Linked DNA regions of Homo sapiens: region 2 is linked to region 1. The links come from fine-mapping of genetic effects on gene expression. Tissue or cell type: whole blood. Region 1 holds a variant in brackets; the other region holds the start of a gene. All regions are shown on one strand. Distances are between the middles of the regions.

Region 1 (8,000 bases):
TCCCACACTTTATATTCAATCCATAGGCAAACTCTATTGGTTCTACTTTTGAAATCTATCCAGAATCTGACTACTTTTCACAGCCTCAACAACTACCATCCAGGTCTTTGGGATCATTGCAACCGCTTCCTAATTAATGGTCTCCCTGCTTTGACCCTTGACCCTCTATGGCCAGAGATCCTGTTACTTCCCTGCTTCAGGACCTCCCAGTTAGTGGGGTTATAGTTAATATAACACTCACTAGTTACCAGTCAGTGTTTTAAGCAATTTGCACCTATTAACATACTGAATTCTCACAATAACCTTACACCGGTAGGTACTGTTACTTTTTACATTTTATCAATGAAGACACAAAGACACAAGGAGGACAAGTCATTCATCAAGATCACACAGCTAGTGAGTGGCAGAGATACAACTCAAACCCTGACATTCTGGCTCCATGGCCCAGGCTCTTAACCTCTGGGCCTGCTTCTTCCAGTGGCTTCCTTTCTCACTTGGAAAAAGCCTAGGTCTTCCTGATAGCTGTGTGCCTGACATGATCTGACCCCATTGCCTCCCTGACCTTGCCTTCTACGACCCACTCCTTGGCTCATCTGGACACACTGGCCTCCTTTCTGTTCTTCTAACACTCCAGGCTTCTTCCCACATTAGGGCCTTTCGCCTTGGCGGGTCCTTCTGCATAAGGCATTTCCCTGCTGAAAGTGGCATGGGTCATTCCCTTGACTCCTTAGGGTCTTTCCTCAAATGCCACTTTTCAGTTAGGATGTCCCTGATCACATCCCTATTGAACGTCTTACCGTTACATCCCGGCACTTTTCTAAGCACTTAACACTTACTTTATCAAACCCATACAACTGCTCTAATTTGATAAAATTTCTATCCTCATTTTATAGGAGAGGAAAAGAGACACAGAGATGTTAAACAGCATGCCCAAGGTCACACAGCTGATAAGTGATGAAGTCAGGATTCCAACCTAGGTGTTCTGGCTCCAGAGTCTGTGATCTTATAAAAAAAAAAAATCAATATACAATACTTGGTGACTAATGGGCAGTGGGAAAGTGAATAAAAAAGAAAAATCAAAGTTTGCTCAGAAGTTTAGAGCCAGAGTAAGAAGACGATTAGCCAATATAAGAACATCACACTGGAGGAGGAGAAGGGGTGGACAGTTTAGATTACCATCTTCCAGAGCCATGTTTCTCAAAGTGTCATCCAAAGTACTCCTTCGTCAGAATCAACTGGGAGTGCTTGCTACAAGAGCAGGTTCCTGAGCTCCACTCCACACCTTCTCAAACAGAGTCTTTGGGGTCAAGAGCTCAAGGATTTGCATGAATGAAAACTCCTAGGTGATTTTGAAATACAATAAATTTTCAAACCACCATCTTGGAAAACAGAAAATATTTTCATTGGCTAAAGTTTGTAGACTAAGTGTCACAATTGTAGTATAGCATTTCCATAACAACAACACTGGCAAAATGTTCTATCACCTTCAAACTTTGCAACTTGGGGTAGGGACTTTTGATGGGTTTGTTCATTGGCGGATTCCAAGTGCCTGAACCAGTGCTTGGACCATAGTGGGCTGGCAATAAACCATTAGCGAGTGTGTGAATTTTGGAGTGGCCCAGAAGAAATTTTCAAGATGCACAATGACTTTGTATGAGCACATTTTACTCAGAGTAGTCCAAGATTTCCATCAGACTTCTTACATAAATTCAGTTTATCGGTTATCATTATTTCCTTAGAAGTGTGAACAGACTGGAAAATACACTGGCTTTTGGAATCATTGCTCTAAGTGTGATTCGGGGAACTGGTATTTAGCAGCTGTGTAATGTTAAGATATTCAACCTTTCTGAGCCTTTATTTTCCTCATTAGTATATTCTTATCACCTTATTTAATATCAATAAAGGTATTATATAAATCAAAAGGATCCTTGGAAAAATATGACTAGGTGAATAGTTTTTAAAAATTTCTCAGTTATTTTGAGGTATAAGGTTTTTTTTTGCAAATTTCTAGCTGTGAAATTTTATAGACTAACAAAATTAGAAAAATAAGACTTACTGGTATAGCATGAGCACTACACATAGTTAAAGAGTGTGTTAATGTTATTAACAAGAGTTAAACTTGGAAAACAAAGATTTCTTTGACATTTGAACCTATTTCAAATCCTTTAAAATTTAATTTGTGAAAACTTATGGGAATAATAAACATGAAATTATTCCTATTTACTGTTTCCTTTTAGAAATAATCACAGCCCCCTAGTTCAAGAATAATATTGCTTTTTGAAAATAAAATATTGATTTGTTGAAGAAGTAGGCAAGTAATGTTATAGTTTAGTATTCTGTCACTCAGAGGCATAGCCCAAGCCAAATGACTTTCATTTAAGAACTTTTAGAGTAACAGGTATTTTTCATTCATTATTTACTACATCCTTGATATCTCAACATTGAAATCTAAGAGAAAAAAGTCGATTATGCTGAAGCCACCTAGACTTCAATGTCTCCTCAATTTTGGAAACTTTACCATACCATCTATTCTAATTTTAGTGACTAAGCAGATCTCTTTTTAAACTTAAAGAAAGAAAGAACTCTACCCTCAAATTTATTCTTGCTGATCAAACAGATGCACAAAAAAGGAAAACATTGTTTATTACAATTAAAGCACAGACAAAAATGTAATTTGACAAGTGGCAAGAAAAAGCTTTCTAATGAAAACACTATGCATTCTACAAAATTCTTAATTCTTTATTCTAATATTGTGCCTAAGTTAGGCATTCTGGAAAGGCATTTCCTTTGCAGAGTCAGAAAGAAAAGCCCCAAATATCCTGAAGTTAAAGATCCAACTATCAGCATCTATACAACTTCAATGGTTACATGTGATTTTTAAAAAACGCCCATTTTGGGCTCTTCTTTCAAATTATAGTTATAAAATAAAATCCACTCACTTAAACCAAACTCCAAATTTTTCTCTTATTTTCTGCACAAAAGGTAATAACAACATGCAAACCATGAGGCAGAAGAGAATTTCTGGTAGACCGAGAAGCTGTACAGTTTCATGACAGATACAAGAAGAAGAAAATATGCTCTTTGAATGATAGAAATAGTTCCGAAAGATTTTCCCCAAACAGTACTTCAGAGTAGTAAACTCTAGGTCACACATGCCTTTATCTAACGCTAAACACCAAAACCCCTAAATTGTAACCTCTCTATAATAACAGTTCAATCCACTGAGGCTGCTTTACCACGGATACCATACCATTATGATGAGGGTTCTGGGTCTATTCATTTCATCGTCACTTTCCAGAGGCAAAATTTCGTGGGATGGTTCCTCTTGGCGTCGTCTACAAATGTGTGGACAGCTCCTCTGGACCACAGAACGAAAAGCTTGAAGCAGAACAATGCTGGCAGTGCAGCCCATCGCTGCATCCTGGAGCCTACAAAATAACTTCTATGTTGATGCTATGTTTGCAAAACAGTGGCTCCTTGTCCCTGAAAACAGCCTACACTGCAGCTGCAGCCGGCTCACTCTCCAATCACTTCCTTGAGCTCTGATCATCTGATCATGGCCAAATAGCTTGGATGCAGAGATGGGAAAGATTTGATCCACGGAAACTGAACACACTCAGGAATATTAGAGCACTGCGCTCAGAAAGTATTTCTCAATTCACATCGAGAGCATGTTTCCTGTTCATTACAATGAAGCTCTTCGATTCTCCTTTCAGAGGTCTGAATAAATATGTCTTTCCCATTCAGACACACAAATAAATTACTTTTTCAAATCACACAACTGAAAACCTGACTTTACACTCACAATTTTTCCTGAGGTATCATGTAAGGAGTGAAAATGATTTTTTTTTTTATAAACGTAAACACTTCCTGAAGGAAATTTTGCTGGACATCTCACTAAGTGATTGAGGTTTTACTTTTCATAGCTCATAAGTTCCAGAAATGAAACTGGCTTATCTGAAACATAGAGTTCACTAGATCAAGATGATTTAACCAAAGTATGCACGCATTAACCAGCCCTGAGTGAGAGACACCAGTGTTCCCCTGTGATTTCCTCTCAATAGTATGGTTGTTCTGTTCCCACACATGCAGTTCTGCAGCCTAATACAATTTTATATTTACATACGCGGCTTGCAGGGCTGAAAATATCTCTATTACTGAGGTCACTGAGCAAGCTCCGCCAAGCTGACCTCTTAGAAAAAGCAGCTGTAAAGCATTTTAACATCCTATCAATAAGAATTCAAGGCTCTGGGAAGGACTTTGAGGTCTTTGGTAGTTAAGAGTCTGGTATTCCCTGACTCCTGCGAGACTAGTCACTTAGGAAAGAACCAAAGAGAGATGCTTAGAAATCACGTGTCCTTTCTGGAATGGCCTCAACATCTAATGGTATAGTGAAAGGGAATAGGGCAGCTGGAGCTGCTTGCGCTAAAAATATCTCATGGAAAATAGATTTTGCTTACAAATGAGGAAAGTATGAAATCCCCAATAGAATTCAATCTTGAGATCTTTCTGCCAAGCTAATTCTTCCAGTGTAACTCTTGGAGATTCAAAGAAAAAAAAATGTTTTCTGTGGTTTCTGGGCTCCTCGGCGTGAAGGGTGCTGCAGGAAGTTTGAGGAAGGATTGTTTTGCTGTAACGTGTGGCCGCCCCAGCCTCAGTGAGGTTGCTTTCGCGGAAGCATCTAGCATGATGCTCAAACAGGCATTAATTGCTCAG[T/A]AATCTGTCACAACACAGCATCGTTTTAATTGGTATGTTCACCCCAGAGAAGTAAAACATGCTTCTTTTTCTTTTAAGAAGTACTGGCTGCCAGTAGTTTTTCATCTCCCTCTGTTTTGAGCAAACATATTTTAGTGCTGCTGGAAAAAGAAGAAAAAAAATGCTAATGATGCTGGCAAGTCCCCTAACTCCCTCTGGACATTTGTCAGACTGCCCGGGTGCTAATCTAAACCATTTTTACTCTAAACAACTAGGGCATTTACTGAAGAGAGGCTACGACTTAGCCTGTCTGGCTTGTGTGTATTGAATATCTATATCTAATGGTGTCCACTTGAGACAAAGGGCAGAGTGGGCTCCTCTGTTTGTGAATGTGTCTTTTCAAATAGGACAGTTCCTCTGGGCTCCCTGTATGGCAGTGCCCACCCCCACCCACTTACTCCCATCCCCCAGGACATATCTCTCTCCAATCACTTCCGTAGGTTGTGATCATCTGCTCATGGCTGCGTAGTTTGCAGGCAGCAAGCTGCTAGCTGGAAACGCTTAAATAGTAAACCAGCCCCAGTTAGAAACTGGAGAGAGAAGACAGATCCCTCCGCTATCCACCATGGGCTTGGCAGGCACGATGCACTTCACATCCTAAACTCCTCTCTAACCATCTCTCTCTAAATCTGGCTGACCTCTGCGGTGGCTTTTGGAATCAGATGTTTTGGCAGATGCCAAAGTCTTTAGGGAGACAAATGAGATGCTTTCTAGCTATTACAGTCCCGCCTTTATCGATCCCCTCTGCCTCTGAGGAATTCACCCCTATTATTGACGGGCTGCTGACAGGCTCTGAATATTCTCTCTCTCATTCTGTCTCCTCTCTCTGTTAGCCTCTGTTATCAAGCTAAAGGAATGTCCAAGGATTAGTTTCTTTGGAATTCAATACACACAACCATTATCCAGTGGACAAGAAATAAAAAAGATGAAACGCAGGAAAGAAGAGTTGAGTATGTTCTCCAACATTTTCTCATGAAAGATTCCAAACATGTAGGAAAGTTGCAAGAAAGGGTTTGGGTTCTGAGCTCTATGTTTTACATAGCAAATTAAGCTAGAGATTGGGTTGGGTTGTGGGAGACACAGAAACCTACCCAGAGGCCATGTTTCTGTCATATGACACACAGGAAACTTTTTTTTTTTTTTTTTTTGAGGTTGAGTTTCGCTCTATCGCCCAGGCTGGAGTACAGTGGCAGGATCTTGGCTCACTGCAACCTCGGCCTCCCAGGTTCAAGTGATTCTCGTGCCTCAGCCTCCTGAGTGGCTAGGACTATAGGTGTGCACCACCACACCTGGCTAATTTTTGATAAGCAGGAAATATTTTAAGATTAGGTATAAACTCTTCAGCAGGTGTCTGCTATTTTTATTTGAACTATTAATAAGATGAATCATTAATTTGGCCTCCAAACATCAAATGTGCACGGCCTTACTAATAAATGACCTTTGGAGATTCTTGTTCACTCTCTTGTCTGCCTTCTTCCCCTAGTAGGGTCTTATCTTATGATTCAATAAGGTATTTATTAAACCTAAAATGCTAGAAACAAGATTTTTAAAGTAATTGTCTTAGATTAGGAAATAATGTCACTAACAATTCGTAAGGCTAAATTTTCCAAAGAAGTGTTGGAAGCTAGATTTCATCCTGGGTCATTAATTATATATTATATTATATCATATTATTGTATGTTATTTCATATATAAAAATTTATTCAGCACTTATGAAATCTTAAATTTGTGTACAATAAAAAATGTTCTTGTTTCAAAGCAGAGATAGCCGTGTTGTGTAGACTGTAGTAGCCTTAATGCTCATAGGAAATGGAAGGAAGGATGGAGGGAGATGTTTTTAACATCTTATTGACCAGGGAGAAAGACATGTAGGAAGAAAAAGTAAGGCATTTCAAGAGAGTAAAAGGAGGTTAAGGAGGAAAAAAAAAAAGAGAAAAACGAATGAAGGGACTAACAAAAACCACCAAAATCGTACTGAATCCTAGGAGGATACTGGACTCTGCCTCAGGGGTCCACCTACCCAGCTGTAGACTGCCCATCCTTCTTCAACAAATCTTGACTAATGAATTTAGTTTTCAGAGCACTTTTCTAAAATCTTTTGGCCTAAGAATGATTTGGCTGTACATGTTGATATATCCACCACTGGGATAATATGTCCAAAGACCTTTTTACAATGGGCAAGGAAATACACATTTAATTTAAATAAATAATGTCCATTGAAAGTGTTGGACCTTCCCAGCTTTGTTAAATTATGTAAGAGCCGTGTGTCTAAATCTATATATCTAATCTATTGCAAAATACCTACGTCTGTTTTGACCGTGTCAAATTGGACTGTGCTTTGGCATGATGGAGGTGAAGCCCACATTCTTCTCCTCCCCAAAAGACCTGGTGCATCTGAGTCTTCTGACACATAATGCTGACCTTGGATGGGGAGAGGTTTTCTGCTATCCTCTATAAGGCATCAAGTACACGGAAAACTACTGCTGCTAACAGATGCTTGTCTTGTAAAAACAAAGATGAGCTTAGATAAAATATTTGAGAAATAAAAAATTGAGAAATGAAGCCTAACAAAATCAGCCTCAAGGGCTTTTTGGATATCCCTGATGCTATGCAGCTTGGTTTCATTGCTTCACACACTGTGAGTTTCTGGTGGGTCCATTTCAGGATCCTAATAAGGTCATGATCAGAACTTATTTATAAAGATAAATTTATGGAAAGGCTAAGAGTTTAAGGGTAGAATTATGTCCCCCCAAAATTCATATGTTGGAACCCTGAGCGCCAATGTGACTCTGTTTTGAGATAGAGCTTCTAAGAAAGTAATAAGGTTTCATGAGGTCATAAGGGTGGGGCCTTCATCCTCTAGAACTAATGTCCTTATAAGAAGAGGAATAAACACCAGCTCTCTCTCTCTCTCTCTCTGTCTTCATGTGTGCACAAGGGAAAGGCCATATGAAGCCACAGTGAGAAGGTGCTATTTGCAAGATAGGAAGAGAGTCTTCACCAGAAAACAACCCTAAGAGCACCTTGATCTTCAACTTCCAGCCTCTAAAGCTGTGAGAAGATGAGTTTCTATTGTTTAAACCACCTAGTCTGTGGTGTTTTGCTAGAGCAGCCCTAGTACCCTAGCAGGCCAATACAAGGACCTTGCCTGGGAAAACCATATTCTAACAGTGAAGCCTCAAGGGAATCATCACCTCCTCGGAGAAAGGCTCTTAATTCCCCCAGGTTGAATTAACCCCCGCCTT
Region 2 (16,020 bases), 63 kb after region 1:
CTTCCTCAAATGATTGCTCTGAGAATTAAATAGAATGCTTGACACTGTGCCAGGCACATCGTACATTCTTAACAAATTATTTACCTTAATGCATTCATTATTGCTTTCTTTTTCTATGCTAGGCCTTAGAGAATCTGGTTGTGGAGAAAAAGCCAAAACCTATACATGTTGACTCATTCTTTCAGCCTTTGATCCTTCTAGAAGTTTTCTAGAACCTACTTGTGGTTACTATTCATTTTCAAAGTTATTTCTCCAATGCCCTTGAGAAATAAAAAACATTGGCAGACACACAAGTAACATTCAAACTTGATCTTGTAAACTAAGTTTGTGTTGACTTCTTCTCCAGGCAAAGAGGTCAAGGGACTTTCCTCATATGAAAACATAACCGTGTGATTTCTGCTAAACCATAAACACCCTTGTCATAAAGGACTCTGTCCAGAACAACAAACAACAAAACAAAGCAAAAAACACAAACAAAATAAAAAGACTGTGCTGTGAATGCTAAACAACCAGGCCCTTATATTGCATATTGCTTTTAAATCTGGATAGCGACAGCAAAACAAGTGCTTCACTTTCATTTGCTATCACTTTCTGCATCTAGCATATGACTTTTGGGAAATTCCAGTATCCCCCACTCAATTAAAAAAAAAAAAATCCCTCCTACTCTCAACTCTTGAATGCCACCAAGTTCAGAGGGGAGAAAATTCTTCCTTCTAGGAATTCCTCACGCTCACGTAAACATGTTTACATATTCATTACTTCTCAATCAAAGCTCTTTGGTTGGTCAAAGGTTCCGCTTCTTACTCAAAGCTCTCTAAAATATCAAAAGTGGTATTATTGGAGGTCTGAAGAGTTAGGAAACATCAAAGAAGGGAAATGGAATTTACTGAAATAAATACTTTCCCCTCTTTACCCCTTACACTTTCTGGGTGGGTAGGAAGGGAGAAAACCTCCTGGTTAAGTATAATCACTTCCGGCAGGATGCTTTCTCTTTAAAATGAGTTAATAACAAAATTAGATACAATTAAAAAGGAGTTGCAAAGGAGTTTTTGTCTAATAATAGAGTAAATATAAAGGCATTAAAAGTGCATGTAACTAAAGTGGTAAGCTCCAGTCTAGGAAATAGATGAACGGCTTTGGGCTAAAACTGACCAAATGATTATTTGATCTCTAGTAAATGCTTCCTTTCCATCATCTGACTCTATGTAGATCTCATCCTTCTGGTTATCTGAAGCCTTCCATTGCACTAACCCACCTAAAACATTCCATAAATAAAACTCCATTTCTCTCAAAGTGACAGATCTGATGGGGTGTTTGCAAAAAGTTTACCTATACTTTTTTTAAAAAGTCTTTTCTTTTGAAATGCTCTCAAATACAATATATATGCAGAAAAGTGCACAAATCCTAAATGTATATCTTAATGAATTATAGAAAGCTATCTAAATGAACTAATTCATGCTAGGGTACAGATACACTTCATTCATTTTAAAAGATGAGCTTCTTATCAAAAAGGAATTTCTAATTAGTGGCATTACAACTTTGAAGCCAACATGGTATGTATATTCAACCAATGTAATAAAACACTCCAGTTCTGATATGAGACAAATGTTTCTAATCATTTTCGGGCTGAAATTCTACCCTAGAGAAGCTTGCTTTATGAAACAATCAGGAATGAGATTTCAGGAAATTATGAGAACTTGACATGATCCTTTGAATTGATCTTCGAATGAGTTGTCTTTCATTTATTTTCTATGGGGAATTTTAGGATAATGAAGGAGCAAATATTTCTCCTTTTGAAATGTATGTTTTTGTTCATTACTGTTCTTGGGAGGGGTGAAGAATAAGGTGGTTCGTGTCTAGGAGTCTGCAAGTACATAAGCCTACTACATACAGTGCTTTGGGTAAAAACTGACATCAAATTTGCTTTGGCATACACCTGTATTGTCCTCAACAACTGCCTTAAAATTTGGCTTTCCCAGTCATTACCCTCACTCAGCATCTCCTTGATCTCTCCTCTCCATATTCAAACACATTTTGAAGGCTTCCTGTCTTCTCTCTCTCTCTCTCTCTCTCTCTCTGTATACACACCCCATTCTCAGGGAAGAAAACTATCTTGTTAACCTGACAACCTTACCTAAACTTATTGGAGAGAGCAGAATTCAAACCCTATGGCAATCTTTTGGCAATGTCCTGGAGGATTTGTGTCCCCAAGACAGGGATTTCAGAAAGGGGAATATACAAATCTAGCAGTAAGATACTTTTTCTCAGCAGGAGTTTCTAGTCTCTTTCAAATACCTTGCAATAGAGGATGGCTTGCTCCAATACACACCCGCGGTTCTATGAGTCTGTACTGAAGTCGGATATCCATAATATTTTCCCCAACATCCTATCATTTTTCTCCCTTGACAACCATGTTTTGAGAACTTGAAGCAACAGATATGAAGAGTCTTAAGGGATTGCATCAATGTACGCTAAGATTAGTCTCTACCACATAGTCCAATGACACGGTTTTAGGTTCAGAAGGGATGCTCTACACCCACAGAATCCCACCGAGTTCAGGTGCCAGCTCAGAGAACTCATCACCTTCCTGTTTCCCTTCAAGAGTTAACTGATGGGATAGTATGCAAAGCACATGCGTTCTTGCTGCCAAAATAGCAGCCAAAACTGCCTGCCTAGATGTGTAAGATCCCATGAAATGTCTTGGCAAAAGCTAGTTTAGGAGTGTTGGCCAAGGTGCTGAAGCGAAGCAAGGGGAGTCAGGACCACCTTTGCCACTGAATCTCCCCTCCCCCACCTCTTTTTAAAGACAGCGAGCTTATTCATTTTGACAAGATACCCTAGGATTTCAAATCTGACATAATTTTGGAGAAAGCAGTGCGTGTGTGTGTGTGTGTGTGTGTGTGTGTGTGTGGTGTAGAAGGGTATCTGGGATACATAATCTTTATAGAAATTCTAGTGCCACAAAAATTCTAGGAGGATCTACATTTAAAAAAACACACAACAGTTTAAGCTGTTTATTCCAATTGAACGCTGTGTGTTTCCATCAGATCCTCAGTGAGATTCAGTCCAATGAGTCAATTGCAAAATAAAGTTTTTGTCAAGGGAATGGCAGAAAATGACAAAACCACAATTCTGAATGATCATTCAAAAGTAAAAAGTACTTTCTACTACTGTGTGGAGATTTTCTTATCTCTACTTTTACTCGAATTGAATCTTTTCTTCTAATGTTCTTTTGAACAGTTTGTCTTTGGTGTCCTGAAAATGTGCACGCTGATAGCAGTACCACATGCTGTCCCTGGCACAGAGTGAGCTAACAGTTGAACCACCTCTGGGTAACTGCGGACTGCAGCTAGTGTAAGTGCAAGAGAAGGCACCCTGGCCACCAATTCGTTTCACACTCCAATCACCCCCGCCCGCTCTACACCCCCTGGGCACCCGATGCCTCTTCCCTCTGCCAGGCAATTTGCTTCCGTTCTGTTCAACTTTCCGACCTCTGGCTTTAGAGAATAGTCCTGGCTGTGGGAACTGGCTCTGGGAAGCTTTTGGCGCCCTCCTCATTGGTGACTGGCAAGAGTAACACTTTCACACTCTTAAAAAGAGCCGTTTAGTTCCTAATGATATTTTCTGGCAAAAAAGAAAATGAAACACACAACCCGGATTCCGGTCCACCAAACGCAGGCCAAGAGCGCGGCTGCTGAGCCCCGGTCTTGCTGTGAGGCTGTTGTTCCCACTCGCTTCCCGTTTCCACTAGAGTTGATTTGTCTCTTGCCACCTCTCCCCGGCAGTGTGGACCTACTGCAACGCAGGAACATCTGGGTTGGTATGGATAGGATCCTAGCATCAGATGCTGGCTGCTGCCCCAGGGACTTCCCGCGGAAATCACCCAGCACTTAGAAGCCGTTTCAATAAGGAAGTAACCAGTAAAGCATTGCTGGTGGGAGAACCCCGCGAAACATCTTAGAAAAATATCAGAAACCGCTGGAGACCTAATGACCCACGTCTCCTCCAGCCTGTGTTCCTCAGCCCTTTCTGGAGGAGTATTAAGTGGTTTGTGGGTTTTTACCCTGCGGTGGGAGGGCTGTTCCAAGTACATCTATTTCTGCGATAGTTAACGTCGGGGGGCCCCAGCTCTAACCAGGGCGAGGACCACGGACTGCATCCCTCTCTCTCAGCGCACTGGTCTGTTTACTGGAGGGTGAGAGGGACGCGCAGACCTCCGGACTCAGGGGTTCTGTTCTGTAGATCCCCCCACCCCACCCGGGGTCTCTGGCACTCGTATCACTTAGCACCAGTGTGACTGGCGGTGCATTCCGGCCCCCTCGCGCCCCATTAAAGCCCCTGCACATCCTCTCCCACGCTGCGCTTCTGCTACCCACGCAGCTGCTCCTCTGAGCGTCCCGCGTGCACAAACGCGCCCCCGGTCCTTACGCGTCGGTGGCGCTGCCTCGCTGAGGTGGCGCCGGGGGAGCCCGCAGAGGCGGCGGGGGAGGGAGTGCGGAGGAGAGGACCCGTGAGCTGCGGGGACCTGGGCCCGCCGAGCTTTTGGGGAAGCTGGGCTCCGTTCCCCCCGGGCGCCTGGGGCGCGCGGGAAGGCGCGGAGGACGCGCCGCACTCACCCGCTGCTGCTGCCGGCTGCTGACTGCCACCGCGGCGGCGGACGCGGCGCTGTGCCGGAGCTCGGCCGCCTGCCCAGGTCTCAACAGGCTCCGGGTGAACCTGCGGGTCCGCTCACCGGCCATCGCCGGTCACGCCAATCGCGCCGCGGGCCCGGGGCGCGCCTCCCGCCGGTCTTCCCCGCGCCAACCTTCTCTATCCACCCGCCGTTCAGGAAGCGGAACTCGGAGCCTTCCCCCCCCTCTTCCTCGCTCAACTCGCAAGAGGCGGGTTTTTCTCTCTTGCACCCCCACTCTTCCCACCCCCTTCCCTCCTCTGAAGCTTCTCGAAGACTTTCCAAACTCTGCGCTCCCCCGGGCGCGCGCGGCCAACTCGGCTGGCGGCCGGGCCCTGCAGCGGCGCATCTGGAGCGGGCGTCGCGGGACGCGTGTGGGGCGGCTCCTGCCCGCGCCGCCCACACGGGCTCAGCTGGCCGGCCGGGGCTGTCCACGCCGCCCGGGGGAACTGCAGGCTGCGGGGGAGGGCGGGGGGCGGCCGCCGAGGGGCTCCGGGCGGGGCCTGTCCAAGGCCGTCGCCTGTCCAAGGCCGTCAGCCTCATTTGGAGGTTGCTGGGAGAGTTGGAGCCCTGGATGCATTTGCCGTTTAGACTTCTATTTTCTGGGTCCGGCTAGTGGGTGGGGGCCAAGCTCGGTTCGCCCTTCCACCCTCGGGAAGGGGTCAGAGGCTTATTAAAGATCTGGTGGCTGGGATCCCAGCAGCATCGCCCAAGCCAGCGTTTGGAAGGCTCCCTTGCCAGAAGTCCATGTTCAGGGCCTTGGAATAAGCTTCCCCATTCATTCACTCCTTCAATGAGTATTTATTAAGCGCCTACTATATGCCAGCTCACACTGTTCTGGAAACTGAGGATACGGAGAGGAACTTAGCAACTACACTTTAAGGCTGTGTAGAGCTGATAGGTTTTTTCGGGGTAGGGGTGGGAGACAGCAAGTAACCAAGCGAACAAATAAACAAATACAGAGAAATCAAGGAGACAGTTTAAGCTACTAACACGAACTCAAAACCAATAAATCAGCGTTCTGGGGGTAAGAGACTTTGGGTGGCATTAGGATGAGTAGGCAAGAACCAACTGGCAGGGTTACTATGTAGGGTGGTCAGGTCGGGGGTGGATTTCACAGTTATGCTGTCTCTGCTCTTCTCTTGCCCATACCCATCTAGCCTGCACTTTGCCTCTAGATAGGTATCTGATGAAAGCCTTCTAAGAAGTCTCTTCCTGGGTCATACCCAGGGTGGTTCTGCAATTCAGTGTTGGACTGGATGGGGGGCAGAGAAGTTCTGGCCCCTGGATACTGGTCTGGAGAGATCTGGGACAGCCTTTCCAAGTGGTCTGGTTTTTTCTTAACAGCTTTTTATGGATCCATGACCCTGCCACTTTCTAAAGCCAATGATAGATAGTTATAACACAAGGTCACATTTGGGTATAAAGAATTCTTAAGCAATTGATAAATGCACTTTAGTCAGCTCTTTGTTAGCCAGGATTCAATTAGCCAGAGATGCTGTTTGGGGATCATTTCAGCACATTCTAGAAATCATAACAGGCGTAAGAGGGTAAGAGGCTCTGGCAGATTTGGGAAGTGCCATTTGAAACATCATCTAGTTCCAAGACAGCCTGCATAACAAATAACTGTACCTGTATTGTATGCTTTCATATTGGTACTCAGTGTGGGAGCAACACCACCTTTCAGGGTAAGCAAAGTAGGTGGTTGCCTCTGTGTTGGTACATGAAGATCTCTGTAGGAACAGCTCCCTCCAACCGTACCCTTTCCCAGGTGTACCCAGACTTGATGTCTCTGAATGCATATTCCCCTGAGAGAACCGATTAAGCACATTTGAATTAACTTGAGCTTCCCAAGAAGAGGTACCTAATCTTTGTCTCTGGTTTCAAAACACTGCCTGGCACACGTAGGCACTCAATAAATATCAGCTTATGGATGACTTTACAAAGGGCTCAGATGGGCTAGTGCAGTCAGAGAGCTGGGTGTGCCTGACACAGAGAAAGTCAGAGAGGAGAAGAGAAAGGTGTGCTGAAAGGGAAGGCTATAGTAATCGATAATACATCAGAATGTGCCCTGCACAAGGCAACTCGCTGATCCAAAACACTGAGTAGCACACACAACCCAATCTCCAACAATATCGAGTAACAGAAAGTCACTTACAATTTGTTAATCGTACAATTAATACACCTAATTGTACTTTTTCCAGCTTCAGGAGGTCACCCAGAGCACTGGTGTGAGAGGGTTTAACGAACAAATGCCTGTTTGCCCAATCCATACCCTGTATGATGTTAATTCCGTGGGTCACACCGAGTAGGAAGGCAGGTTTAAGTGTTGATAGCATACCTCTCACACCCAGGGCATGTCAATAATGATACTTCAGAGACTCTCCTCCGCCCTTATGATCATGTAGGTTTTAGTTAAGCTTCCTTCGGGCACCAAGGAGAGAGAGCTGAGTGTCGACCCTTGCCCCTGCCCTTGTAGCATAAATACACTTATTTTTTGCTACAGAAATGTAACTTCAGGTCTGCTGATTTGGGACCTTGACTCTGCTGGCCACCCATCTCTCAGATCCCTGGAGAAACTCGGCTCAGATGCTTGGTAAACGCAAATCTGTGCACATATCATGAAGTATGTTAAGTTTCTTGGAACAGCTAGTTAATAAGAGAATCTTCAAGGGCTTGTAATATTGTAGAATAGTGGTTAAAATACATGCTCTGAAGTCCAATTACCTTTGTTCAAATCCCAACTCCGTAAGCCTCAGTTTCTTACCTACGCAATCAAGATAGTAGTTGTGTGGCTGGGCTGCTGAGAGAGTTACTTAAATTAGTGTAAATTTCTTCAAAAGTGACTAGCACATGGACTTCAATAACTGTTATTATCCCTACACTTGCAGATAACTCAGGAATTAAACAAGCTTCCATGTCTTTTCATATATTTGATTCTCATATGAACCCTGTTATTATTCCTACACTTGCAGATAACTCAGGAATTAAACAAACTTCCATGTCTTTTCATATATTTGATTCTCATATGAACCTTTGCGAGAAGAAGGATGGATGGGTATTATCTTGGAGCCAAGGCTGGGGATTTAATGAGCATTCTGGAGACAATGTCTTAACCCAAATCAATGACTATGGAATTTCATGAACAAGAATAACAATAACAATGTAATCCTTATAGTATTAACCCACTATTGTGTAACAATATGTAACTATAACATAATGTGCTACAGTTTGGATAATAGTTTCACATATATTATTTCACTTGAATTTTAATATATTATAAAATGGGGTTGTTCAGCCCATCTATCCCATGTCTCGCTGTCTAAAATTGTAGATGGATCATTAAAAGAGCTCCCCAAATGCATGGAACAGACATTTTAGAAACCAGTGGTTGCAAATTTTGCTAAATGTTCTCAAATCAAGATTGTACTAATACATAGAATGCAGAGGCTGCAATCAAGTTTTATCAGTGTTTGAATTTGCCAATTCATTTGAGTTGTCACGAGACAAGCCATTCACTGAGGAAGAAATAACCCCACTCAACAGACACTTATGGAATATCAACTATGGACAGGATCTCACACTATGCTAGGAGGGCACAGAGCTGAGCAAAATGTTTCTGTCTCCAAAAAGCTCAATTTCATACAGAGGAACTGACTTAAAAAACATTACTGGTGCTCATGGGTGAGTGGGTAGGGGGTGAGAGTAAGATTTTGGAGATGGAGCGTCTATGGACCCATGTTAACATTTTATACTTCATATTTTTATGACTTTTTAAATAAGATTGAAAAAATTGGTCTCAATAACATGGAATTTTCTAGCCTTCTCTTTCTCTTCCCCTCTTTACTTACCTCCTTTTCTCTCTTCTTCTTTCTTCCTTTCTCTCTTTGTCCTTTTCTTTCCTTCCCTCACTGCTTCCTCCCTTCCTTCCCTTCTTCCTTCTTTAAAATTTGATACTCTTCTTATTCATACTAAAGCATCACTTACTTTCATAAGATGTAGTAAGCACTGATTACTTGACCTGGTACAATTCAAAGCTTTATAGAATTAAGAAACCACAACTGTCAATAGCCCTCTCCTGTCATCCTTCTACATGACTGTGTCCATGTCTTATCAGCAAGGAAAGACTTCAGAAATTTTTTCATAGCAGTAATAAGTATAAATGTGAAAACTGTACTATATTTTCCAAAATACCTACAGACATAAGAGTGTGTAAATTTAGTTATTAGTCTAGGAGTGTGACTCTTGGACGAATAACTAAATTTGCACACTAAATGACTAAATTAGATCTTGATACCCAGAGATTGTAGGAGGTGGGGCAAATACTCCTTGCATCCATTCCATGGCATTGAGCCACCCTTCCTAAGTGATACCAAGCCCAGTGTACCCTGGGTGTCAGCCTGGGCATCACCATGTCCCAGTGCTTAACTATATCAAGTTTGTCTAGTGTTGCACCATTTACAAAGCACACTCATTATTTCATTTGATTCTCAATCATTCATTCTAAAATGCACATGGGACATGTGATATTGCCCCCACCGTACATAAGGGAAAGCTGGGAGAGAATTTGATAGCATGGAAATTAGGAGGGAAATTTTGCTAATTAATAAAAAAGAAAGATACAGAAATAGGAATACAAATGCCCAAGTTAAAATGGTTTTCTGATATTATAGGAAGCCTTCCTTTATTTTATTTTATTAATTATTATTATTATTTATTATACTTTAAATTCTGGGATACATGTGCAGAACGTGCAGGTTTGTTACATAGGTATACATGTGCCATGTTGGTTTGCTGCACCCATCAACCTGTCTTCCAGGTTTTCTGTGTGATTTTCCTCTCCCTGTGTCCATGTGTTCTCATTGTTCAACTTCCACTTATGAGTGAGAATATGTGGTGTTTGGTTTTCTGTTTCTGTGTTAGTTTGCTGAGAATGATGGTTTCCGGCTTCATCCATGTCCCTGCAAATGACATGAACTCATTCTTTTTTATGGGGGCACAGTATTCCATGGTGTATATGTGCCACATTTTCTTTATCCAGTCTATCACTGATGGGCATTTGGGTTGGTTCTAGTTCTTTGCTATTGTAAATAGTGCTGCAGTAAACATATGTGTGCATGTGTCTTTACAGTAGAATGATTTATAATCCTTTGGGTATATACCCAGCAATGGGATTGCTGGGTCAAATGGAATTTCTTGTTCTAGATCCTTGAGGAATCACCACACTGTCTTCCACAATGGTTGAACTAATTTACACTCCCAACAGTGTAAAAGCATTCCTATTTCTCCACATCCTCTCCAGCATCTGTTGTTTCCTGACATTTTAACGATCGCTATTCTAACTGGAGTGAGATGGTATCTCATTGTGGTTTTGATTTGCATTTCTCTAATGACCAGTGATGAATGAGCTTTTTTTCATATGTTTGTTGGCCACATAAATGTTTTGTTTTGAGAAGTGTCTGTTCATATCCGTCACCGACTTTCTGATGGGGTTGTTTCTTTTTTTCTTGTAAATTTGTTTAAATTCCTTGTAGATTCTGGATATTAGACCTTTGTCAGATGGATAGATTGCAAAAATTTTCTCCCATTCTGTAGGTTGCCTATTCACTCTGATGATAGTTTCTTTTGTTGTGCAGAAACTCTTTAATTAGATCCCATTTGTCAATTTTGAGGAAACCTTCCTTTATTAAGGGAAAAGTATATTTGTCTTATTTTTACAATAGAAATGGAGGTCCACAGAGGCAGGTGACTTGCCTTGATAATGTAGTAGTGTAATTGGGTGGGTAAATTAAAATAATTTTGTTTATTGAAAGTATAATGCTTGTCATATTCAGCAATAAGTAAAGTATCAGAATTGTAAACCAAATTGTTGGAAAAATACTTTGCCACAGCACATCTTGATTCCTAACACTAAGAAAAAAATAAGCAATTGAATGTACATCCAGTGGTGTTTTGGCTGAATACTATTTCATAAGATACATTTTTCCTAACCTTACCAAGAGAATATTAAAGAGCTACAAGAAAAATATGGTTTGAAAGGTATGATATTAATGGGGTCTATTAGTTCTTGAGTTCTTGCTGGAGCTGAAGCCATCTGAAAAAGCTGAGTGCCTCCATGTTGTCTATGGAAAAAGGTATTAAATCTGATATGTATTTCTTACTGTGTTTAGAAGACAGATCACTTCTTGGGAGAAAATTACACTTAAAGTAATATGATTTGAATCTGAAACACTGCCAGGCTGTATATCGTGCCAATACGCATGCAGTGTGGCATTCTATCACTATTAGTCCACCAGAATCCTTGGGGCATAGTGCAAACAGAGGTACATGATTGAAAGAAAAGAATGACTATTTTTAACTGGCAACCAGTCTCTAGGTTCTCTATCCTACTTTGGCTTTTATTTGTAGTCTAGCCTAAGGGAATTAATGTCCCAGGATCTTTTTTTCCTCCATCTGTAAAAGTTACTCAGAGGCAGATTTTGGCTCCATATGAAGAAGGAAAAGATTAGTAAATATTAGATGGGAACATTTTTATTTCTTACGTGCATAATTAAACCCTTGTACTTACTTTATTTTTCCAGACATTTTAATGTTCTCCTCCATTTTTCCAGTGTGGTGATTACTCCTGATATCTACTAGTCTCACAGAAATAGAACTTGATATGTAAAAAAGTTCTATCATAATTATTTCTTTTGTTTCTTAAAGAGAGCAACATAAAAATAAATCTGTTGTCTAATATTTCATTGAGAATTTTGCATCTACACATATGAGTGACATTGGTCTACCTTTTTTATTTTTGGAACTAATGTGACATTTTGCCAGGGAGATTTTTCTGGCTTCCTTAATTAAATTGGAGAGCTTTCTGCCTCTTTCCATGGTCTACAGCAATTTAAATAACATTGGGCTTATTCGTTCTCCAATGGTTGGATACAATCCAGCTGTGGAACCATCTGGTTTTGGTACATTTTTTAATAGGAGATCTATAATCATTTTCAAATCCCTTGTATGGTAATTGGTCTATTCAAGATTTTTCACATCTTTTATTTCTTAATAATTTATATTTTACTAATAATATCATCCCATTTTTCTAGATTTTAGAAATGTTTGCCTTAGAATTGCATGTAACACTGAATGATATGTGTTCCCTTCTGTTATGTATTCTTTAAAATTTTATTATAAATATTTTAAACATGGCTAAAAAGTATTACAAAGAACACAATGAATACTCATAAATCCTCCAGGTATATTAAACTATTTTAAATTGGAGAAATCATGACCTTTCATCTCTACATAGCTCAGCATTTATCTCCAAAAAGTAAGAATATTCTCCTACATAACTGCAATATTATTTAACACATTGAATTCAACAACAATTCCTTCATTTTTTTTGTCATCCAGGTCATATTTGAATTTCTCCAATTGTCCCCCAAATAACTTTTTCTCAGCTGATTTGATCAATCTCAAATTTAATCTTGAAGATGCATTGCTTTGGTTGTCATGTCTCTTAAGACTTTAATTTGAAACCATTCTCCTCCCATTTTTGATAATGACTTTGACTTTTCGAAGAGACCAAGCCAGTTATTCCAAGTTTTGTTATCTTTTGCTAACATTTAATTTTTTGTTGTTGTTGTTTTTTTGAGATAGAGTCTCGCTCTGTTGCCCAGGCTGGAGTGCACTGACGCGAACTCGGCTCACTGCAACCTCCGCCTCCCAGGTTCAAGCGATTCTCCTGCCTCAGCCTCCTGAGTAGCTGAGATTACAGGTGCGCGCCATCATGCCCAGCTAATTTTTGTATTTTTAGTAGAGACACGGTTTTGCCATATTGGCCAGGCTTGTCTCAAACTCCTGACCTCGTGATCTGCCCACCTCAGCCTCCCAAAGTGCTAGGATTACAGGCGTGAGCCACCGTGCCAAGCCTAATTTGTTGCTTTTTATCTGAAGCCTTTTAAAATACATACTTTAAAAAAATTATTTTTTTTAAATTTGCACATAACAATTATACAATGCACTGTGATCAGATCAGGGTGATTAGCATATTCATTGTCTCAAACATTTGCCATTTCTTTGTGTTAAGAATAATCAATATTCTCTTTCTAGCTATTTGAAACTGTATAGTAACATTATTGTTAACTATAGTCATTCTACAGTGTTATGAAACACTAGAACTTATTCCTTTTATCTAGCTGTAATTTTCTATCCTTTAACAAATGACTCCCTTTCTCTCCTTCTCCCTACCCTTCCTAGCCTCTAGCATTTTTTGTTCTAATGAGATCAACTCTTTTAAGCTACCACATATGAGTGAGAACATGAGTGGTTTAATTTTCTGTTCCTGGCTTATTTCAGTTAACATAATATCTTCTAGTTCCATCCATGTTACCTTGAATGACAGGATTTTATTCTTTGTATGGCCGAATAGTATTCTATGGTGTATATATAGCACTTTTTCTTTATCCATTCATCTGTTGTCAGACACCTGGGTTGATTCCGTATCTTGGCTATTGTGAACAGTGTTGCAATAAACATGGGGGTACAAATGCTTTTCATATAATGATTTCCTTTCCTTTGGATAAATGCCTAGTAGTAGGATTGCTGGATCATACGGTAGTTCTATTTGTAGTTTTTGAGGAGCTTTTATACTCTTCTTCACAGGGCTTTATTACTTTACATTCTTAAACAACAATGTATAAGAGTTCACTTTTCTCCACATCCTTGCCAGCATTTGTTATTTTTTTGTCTTTTTGATAATAACCATACTAATTGGAGTGAGATGATACCTCATCGTGGTTTTGATTTGCATTTCCCTGATAATTAGTGGAGTTAAGTATTCTTTCATATATTTTTTGACCATACGTATGTCTTCTTTTGAGAAATGTCTGTTCAGATCATTTGCCCATGTTTTAAGTCAGATTATTTGTTTTTTGTTGTAGAAATGTTTGAATGCCTTGTATATTCTGGATTTAGCCCTCTGTTGGTTTGAGAACATTTTCTCCCAATCTGTAGGTTGTGTTTTCACTCTGTTGATTGTTTCCTTTGCTGTGCAGAAAGTTTTTAGATTTTAAAATCCTTCCTCAATTAGTGGCTAATCGCTTTTCTCATTCTTAATCTCGAATATTTTTACTTCCTCCTTTTTTCCTTAATTGGGTTCTCAAGAGGGATTATCTACTGTAGTAGTCTCCTCAAGGAACTTGTAGTTGTTTTATTAGTTTGACTTTGTACTGTTTATTTTTTTCATTAATAAGCTATTTTCTTAACCAAGAGAGGAATATCAGATGCTATAGAAGAAAATATAGTACTATTTAAATACATAAAATCTTAAATCTTCATTATGGCAATATTAATAAAATGCCAGTATATAAATGACATAATTTAGTACATGTTTGTAATACAAATAAACAAGAAAAGCCAATATCTCTATTATATAAAGATCTCTTACTAACGGACAAGAAAAATATAAAAAATGAGCAAATTAGTAAAAAAGAAAGTCTAATACAAAAAGCCAAATTAAAAGAAAACAGAATAAATCATGCTGCTATAAAGACACATGCACACGTATGTTTATTGTGGCACTATTCCAAATAGCAAAGACTTGGAACCAACCCAAATGTCCATCAATGATAGACTGGATTAAGAAAATGTGGCACATATACACCATGGAATACTATGCAGCCATAAAAAAGGATGAGTTCATGTCCTTTATAGGGACATGGATGAAGCTGGAAACCATCATTCTGAGCAAACTATCGCAAGGACAGAAAGCCAAACACCACATGTTCTCACTCATGGGTGGGAATTGAACAATGAGAACACATGGACACAGGGTACAGAACATCACACACTGGGGCCTGCTGGGGGGTGGGGAGATGGGGGAGGGATAGCATTAGGGGATATACCTAATGTAAAGGATGAGTTAACAGGTGCAGCATACCAACATGGCACATGTATACATATGTAACAAACCTTCATGTTGTGCACATGTACCCTAGAACTTAAAGTGAAAAAAAAAAAACAGAAAATCTCAATCTCAAATTCTGTGCCCATTTTAAATTGTATTGTCAGTCTTTTTCTTACTGGTTTTTTAAATTTAATTTGTATTTTTTGGATACAAGTATTTCATCAAATATATATGCATATATGATTTGTTGTTTTTAATATTGCACGTTGCTCAATAATTAGAAGTCATAGCATTATTTTGCTGTTTTCCTTACATATTCAGAGAACGTTATACCAAATGTATACTTATCAAATGTGATTGTTTATCTTTTAAAAGAGATAGAGGAAGCATTTTTCCTAATAGTCTCAGAAAGAAATACATTAACACTTCCAAAGTTTTAGATGAATGCTACAAAGTTTATAAGGCTTCTGAAGTTTTTCAAAACATTAATTTCATACCCTGATCAAGTGAGCTGAAGACAGTTGGAGAAAACATATTTTGGGTTTGTTTATGTACATGTATAATTGATTTAAAGAAACCATTTTTTTTTCCAGGAAATGTTTCTCTTAAAAAATATCTTTCAGTTGTCACAGCTCCCTTCCAGTCATGTGGTTTTTGTGTATACTTGTATTTGCACTAACCCATTTCCTGTGCATGGACTCTGCTTGCCTTTGCTCTTGCTGTGGTAAAAAGAAGTGAAATAGAAATATCACAGCATTGCCCAGAGCTCAGTTTTTGAAAGGGTGTAAGGCAGAGGAAGGAAAGCAATGCAAACTGTGCAGCATTTCTGAAGCCCAAAGCAAAAATGGCAGATTGACTGGTCTTGGGGATGTCTATTCAAATAAAAGCCAGTGGGTTTTTGTTCTTCCCCCCATGATCATTAGAATTTATTAATACAACTAGATTAGGGTTTTTTGTAGCTTTATCTTTTAGCAGTTTCTCATGTGTAGGCTTGAAAATGTGTTTCTGTTCTGAGCTAATCATGAATATTGTCCCCTTTCTCCTTATTTGTTGATTTGCTAGAGGGACAAAAAGAAGTAAAATAGCTATTTTTATTGAAATCTTAAAAGCAATGAGAGAGTCATTATCATGCAACTAGTCTAAAAATTCATAATAAAGTCAAAGTACTTTTTGTAGTTTTTAAAAAGGTGCTATTAGTGTCATCATGTGCACAAAGCTCCAAGCTGACATTAACAAGAGGCCTTCCTAACACTACCACACAGCCTGTTTGCTGTTACAGAAATGCTTAGACTGGAGCTACTTAAAAGCACCTGAGTATGAGTCCCAAGGCTCAATAAAATATTCGAGACCATCCTGGCCAATATGATGAAACGTCGTCTCTACTAAAAATACAAAAATTAGTCCGGTGGTGGCACACACCTTTAGTTCCAGCTACTCAAGGGGCTGAGGCAGGAGAATC

What was found. PIP is the estimated chance that this variant, and not a neighbour inherited with it, causes the effect.
Region 2: DOCK10 starts here. The variant in region 1 is fine-mapped to the expression of DOCK10 in whole blood (TOPMed, PIP above 0.99).

Annotation. Positions count from the first base shown.
Region 1 is chr2:224,978,957-224,986,956 of GRCh38, forward strand. All of the region lies in intron 1 of DOCK10 (dedicator of cytokinesis 10), which reads right to left. Among named protein-coding and RNA genes, the nearest start is that of MIR4439, 28 kb to the right of the region's middle. The variant T/A (reference allele first, on the strand shown) is at 4,717.
Region 2 is chr2:225,037,636-225,053,655 of GRCh38, forward strand. DOCK10 (dedicator of cytokinesis 10) reads right to left here and starts at 4,833. Exons shown (of 56, transcript NM_014689.3): 1 at 4,617-4,833. The coding sequence starts at 4,739. RefSeq lists an enhancer at 3,540-3,879 and silencers at 4,430-4,669, 4,860-5,229.